2 separate regions of the Homo sapiens genome follow, and region 2 is linked to region 1. Evidence: fine-mapped expression QTL. A gene starts in region 1. The other region holds a variant in brackets. All regions are shown on one strand. Distances are between the middles of the regions. Region 1 holds the start of RAB10 (RAB10, member RAS oncogene family). Region 2 has its middle 22 kb from the start of KIF3C.

The links. PIP is the estimated chance that this variant, and not a neighbour inherited with it, causes the effect.
Region 2: its variant is the best candidate, but not a certain one, in a credible set for the expression of RAB10 in whole blood (INTERVAL, PIP 0.51).

Annotation. Positions count from the first base shown.
Region 1 is chr2:26,033,118-26,035,617 of GRCh38, forward strand. It overlaps RAB10 (RAB10, member RAS oncogene family), which reads left to right and starts at 967. Exons shown (of 6, transcript NM_016131.5): 1 at 967-1,618. The coding sequence starts at 1,492. It overlaps LOC124907743 (a long non-coding RNA gene), which reads right to left and starts at 632. Exons shown (of 2, transcript XR_007086249.1): 1 at 561-632. RefSeq lists a silencer at 633-862 and an enhancer at 1,173-1,222.
Region 2 is chr2:26,003,446-26,006,458 of GRCh38, forward strand. No RefSeq gene overlaps it. Among named protein-coding and RNA genes, the nearest start is that of KIF3C, 22 kb to the left of the region's middle. The variant A/G (reference allele first, on the strand shown) is at 1,563.

The DNA of each region.
Region 1 (2,500 bases):
AAAAAAAAGAAAGAAAAGAAAAAAAGAAAAAGAAAATGCGAGGAAGCAGGCTGTGTCGGACTGGGAGTAGGCTTGACCACCTTTCAATTTTCAACCCAGTGGTACGACGCTGGCGGCAGGCAGAGGCCCCACCTCCTCTGCAGAGCGCTCTCGGGTTCTCCCGGATTCCTGAAGGACGGCAAAGGCCTGAAGCAGGTTCTCTGAGCACCGCACAGAACCCTCCACTTCGCAGGGAGGTTCTTCCTGCGCCCAGGTGTTCCTCAACCTTCCTCTCCTCGCCCAGGAAGAGGTTGTGAGGATTACCTCATCCCAACCCGAGCGGCGTGGCCAGCTTTTCCATCTCAAACTCTTGCTCTTGAAGTCAATCCGGATGGAGCGCTCATGTTTCCCCGTCAGGGCTGGCCCTGGAGAGGGGGCACGCCGGGAGGCGTCTCGTTCTAGCAAAGAGGCTATTAAATGACCCAGGGCGCGGCTTTTTCTCGCGTTTACGAGCTCCACCTACACGGGAACACATGGCCACCCAAGCCCGTCGCTGCGCCAAGACCTCCAGCTCAACACACCCGACAAGCGCTGTGCAGAGAAACCGCAGCGCAGTCCAGCGGGAGACCCCGGGAGGGGAAGGAGGTGCTGGGCTCTGTAAGGGTGTCCCGGGGAGCGGGGAGCGGGAGGCGGGAGGCGGGGGTCGGAGGGGGGGCGCTGCGCCTGCGCAGTCGCTAGGTAGCGTCTCCCCCGGGGCGTGCTCGTAACGCCGCGCACCCTATCAGGCGGCCACAGGGAGCGCGCCCGCGGCCTCGCCCTTTCTCGCCCCTCCCTTCTCCCCTCTGGGTCCAGCCTCAGACTGAGGCTTGGAGACAGGAGCATTCCACTCGCCACTTCGGCGCGCCCCCATGCCCTCTTGTGCGCGTGCGCAGAGGCGGACCGCAAGGCTAGGGCGTGAGGGAAGGGCGGGCGTACGCCCTTGCGTGCGTCTCAGGCAGCGCGCACGCCGGCGTGAGAGGGCACGGGGAAAAGGTGGCTCTGGCCGGGGTGGCTCGGTTTCCTGGGGCTATGTAACTGAGCTCGTCGACTTAGGGGTCCTTCTTCGCTGCCCTCGCCGCGTGCTAGCAGGGAGTTTCCGCTCGGGAGAGAGACTGTCCTCACGCCCGCTGCGCCTCCTCGACGGCAGAGCAGGCTTGCTCGCCCGTGGGAGCGTCCCGGCCGAGAAGCCCTGAGGGGGGAGGGGAGGCCATTTTGTCCCGACCGACTCCCCGGAACCGGGCGGACGGGCTGGGAGAGGCTGCGGAGCCGCGGTCGCCGCCCTCGGAGGCACTGGACGCCGCCACTGTCGGGGCTTCCTCAAAGCTGTTCGTAGGTCGCCCGCGCCGTCTCGAGCCTTTTTCCCACGCTTCCCCGGTCCTCCGGCCTGAGAACGCCCGAGTGAGGAGTTGGCCGTAGTGAGAGGGACCGATCCCTTGGGGCCGCCGGCGGCGAGAGCCCGAGCCGCTCCTCCCAATGGCGAAGAAGACGTACGACCTGCTTTTCAAGCTGCTCCTGATCGGGGATTCCGGAGTGGGGAAGACCTGCGTCCTTTTTCGTTTTTCGGATGATGCCTTCAATACTACCTTTATTTCCACCATAGGTAAGACCTGTGGGAGGACGGTGTACGGTCTCGGTAGCTGCATACCGTTTATTTTACTCCAGACATCTTGCTTCCCGTAATATACGCCTTTGTTTCAGTGATTCCGATTCCAAACGACACATCCAAGTTACTGTTTGAATCGGCATCGAGCTTACTGGGGCGGGGTCTTCCCATGATTTCCATCCGGTCTTTTGCTTTCGAGTCTCCCACTATGCTCAGTGCCTTCTGTTACAAAATATGCATCATTTAACCATGTTCCAGAACCTTATTTCTTCAGGCGACTGGACTGGCTTTTTCCACATTTGCGTGGAATTAGTAGATGTGTGATATTTTTAAGGTATTTATTTCAGTGGTTGCGATTGAAGCAGTACTAGCTATTTGGGAAAGGCCTGAATTTATACTTTGGGGCAAAGAAAAGATTCCATATGGTGATAACTTAGAGTAAACTTGAGGGTTTCTGAGAAGAATAATTAAGGTAAATTAGAAGGGAAGAGTGAGTTGCCCTCATTCACTAATCCATTGATGTGTCAAACAATCGGAGGCTCTTCGCGCTTGGGGTGGGACTCTGGCATATTTGCCTCAGTGCTTTTCGAGACATCAACAGAAGCAGTAATCTGAGGGAGATGATCAGTTTCTGTCCTCAAACCCAACGGAGTGAAGTCAAGCTCTCTCTTCTATTTTATTTGACTCTAGTATTTACAGGAAAGTATTTTGCCAGTCATAGCCCTATGGACTTATAATGCACTTTCACCATGTTTCAGAATTACTTAGTGTGGAAGTAAGAGCTAAAGAGTGACCTTTTTAATCGAATTTCCCGTTTAGGAAAGGAAAAGGGAAGGCTCTAGGAAAGTCCCTTTTGAATCTGGTTAGAAAATTTAAGTG
Region 2 (3,013 bases), 29 kb before region 1:
CCTCCCCGACAGTTCCCACTGTCCCACTCCATACCTTCTTCAGCCCAAGCTCTCATCTCAGCACCAGCTTCCTTTCCACATCTGACTCCAGGGTCTCTCTTCTCCATCCCATTCAGCAGATCACCACCACTACATCATTTATTTTCTTTTTTATTTTTAAAAATTATAAACGACAACCAACCAACCCTACCTATGTATAAGGGTAAAAAAATAATAATAGGCCGGGCGCGGTGGCTCACCCCTGTAATCCCCGTGCTTTGGAAGGCCGAGGTATGCAGATTGCCTGAGGTCAGGAGTTCAAGACCAGTCTGGCTAACATGGTGAAACCCTGTCTCTACTAAAGTTGCAAAAATTAGCCAGGCGGGGTGGTGCATGCCTGTAATCCCAGCTACTCGGAAGGCTGAAGCAGGAGAATCGCTTGAACCTGGCAGGCGGAGGTTGCAGTGAGCCAAGATCGTGCCATTGCACTCCAGCCTGGGCAACAAGAGCACAACTCTGTCTCAAAAAAATATAAATGGCTGGGCGCGGTGGCTCGCGCCTGTAATCCCAGCGCTTTGGGAGGCCGAGGTGGGTGGATCACGAGGTCAAGAGATTGAGACTATCCTGGCCAACATGGTGAAACCCCGTCTCTATTACAGATACAAAAATTAGCCGGGCGTGGTGGCGGGTGCCTGTAGTCCCAGCTATTCAGGAGGCTGAAGCAGGAGAATCACTTGAACCCAGGAGGTGGAGGTTGCACTGAGCTGAGATTGCGCCACTGCACTCCAGCCTGGCGACAGAGTGAGACTCCGTCTCAATAAATAAGTAAATTAATTAATTTAATTAAATTAATAATAATAATAACAATAATAATAATAATAATAATATGAATGGTTGGGCGCAGTGGCTCATGCCTGTAATCCCAGGACTTTGGGAGGCTGAGGTGGACTAGCCTGGGCAACATGGCGAAACCTCATCTCTACCAAAAAATATATACATATACAAAAGTTAACTGGGTGTGGTTACAGCTGTAGTCCCATCTACTCAGGAGACTGAGGTGGGAGGATTGCTTGAGCCAGGGATATGGAGGTTCCAGTGAGCCAGGATCACATCATTGCGCTCCAGCCTGCGTGACAGAATGAAACTCTGTCTCAAAAAAAAAAAAAATGATGAATTACATCATGTATGTATTCAGAAGTACATACAAAACATATCAGCATAATTTAGAATGAATGTATGTGGGGAGCTAAAACCATCCCCCATGTTAAGAAACAGAACACAAGGCTGGGCGCAGTGGCTCACTCCTGTAATCCCAGCAGTTTGGGAGGCCAAGGCAGGTGGATCACAAGGTCAGGAGTTCAAGACCAGCCTGAGCAACATGGTGAACCCCCGTCTCTACTAAAAAAATACAAAAAATTAGCTGGGCGTGGTGGCACGTGCCTGTAGTCCCAGCTATTCAGGAGTCTGAGGCAGAAGAATCACTTGAACCTGGGAGGCAGTGAGTGACAGAGCAAGACTACGTCTCAAAAAAAAAGGGCTGGGCATGGTGGCTCACGCCTGTAATCCCAGAACTTTAGGAGGCT[A/G]AGGCGGGTGGATCATGAAGCCAGGAATTCGAGACCAGCCTCGCCAATATGGTGAAACCCCATCTCTACTAAAAGCACAAAAATCAGCCAAGCGTAGTAGCACGCGCCTGCAGTCCCAGCTACTTAGGAGACTGAGGCAGAAGAATCACTTGAACCCAGGAGGCAGAGGTTGCAATGAGCCGAGATCGTGCCACTGCACTCCAGCCTGGGTGACAGAGTGAGACTCTGTCTCAAAAACAAAAAAAAAGAAAGAAAAAAGAAACAGAAGTACTCATTATCTTCTTTAAATGTCTCATTTAAATTGTTCAAGCATGGCCAGGCGTGGTGACTCACACCTGTAATCCCAGCACTTTGGGAGGCCAAGGCAGGCAGGTCCCTTAAGCTCAGGAGTCTGAGACTTGCCTGGGCAACATGGCGAAACCCCATCTCTAAAAAAAAAAGAAAAAAAAAAAACCCACGAAGTGTTCAAGCACCTTTGGTGACTCCCTGTTTCCTATTCTAGCTTCCCTAGCCTGTTTTTCAGTCAGGCCCCATCACACTGGCCTTGGCGTTCTCCTCACTGCCTCTTCCACCCCACCTTCACTCTGGCCATTACACTTCATCTAAGAGCACAGGATCAGAAACATAAAATCTGTCTTCCAGGCCCCTCTTTGTCATTTATTAGCTGTCTGAATTCAAATAGATTGTTTAAGCTTTCTGAATTAGTCAGTACTCTTTTGGTAGCAAGTAACAGAAACCAAATTCAAACCGGCTGACGTAAATGAGGAGACGTAATGGCTTATCTCAGACAAATTTTAGGATAACTCAAGCTTCAGGCACAGCTGGATCTAAGGACCCGAACCATGTCACCAGGAAATGGTCTCTTGGCTGTTTTCCTCTGGGTTGGTTTTATTATCATCCCCCATTGTTTCAGCAAAGGTTCTTTTTTTTTTGGAGATGGAATCTTGCTCTGTCGCTTTGTTGCCCAGGTTGGAGTGCAGTGGCACGATCTCGGCTCACTGCAAGCTCTGCCTCCCGGGTTCATGCCATTCTCCTGCCTCAGCCTCCTGAGTAGCTGGGACTACAGGTGCCCGCCACCACGCCCAGCTAATTTTTTGTATTTTTAGTAGAGACAGGGTTTCATCGTATTAGCCAGGATGGTCTCAATCTCCCGATCCCCTGATCTGCCTGCCTCGGCCTCCCAAAGTGCTGGAATTACAGGCGTGAGCCATCGCACCCGGCCAGGTTCTTTTTTTGTTTTTTTGTTTTTTTTTGAGATAGAGTTTCATTCCTGTCTCCCAGGCTGGAGTACAATGGCGTGATCTCAGCTCACTGCAACCTCTGCCCCCCAGGTTCAAGCAATTCTCCTGCCTCAGCCTCCCAAGTAGCTGAGACTACAGGCGCCTGGACCACCATGCCTGGCTAATTTTTGTATTTTTAGTAGAGACGGGGGTTCACCATGTTAGCCAGGC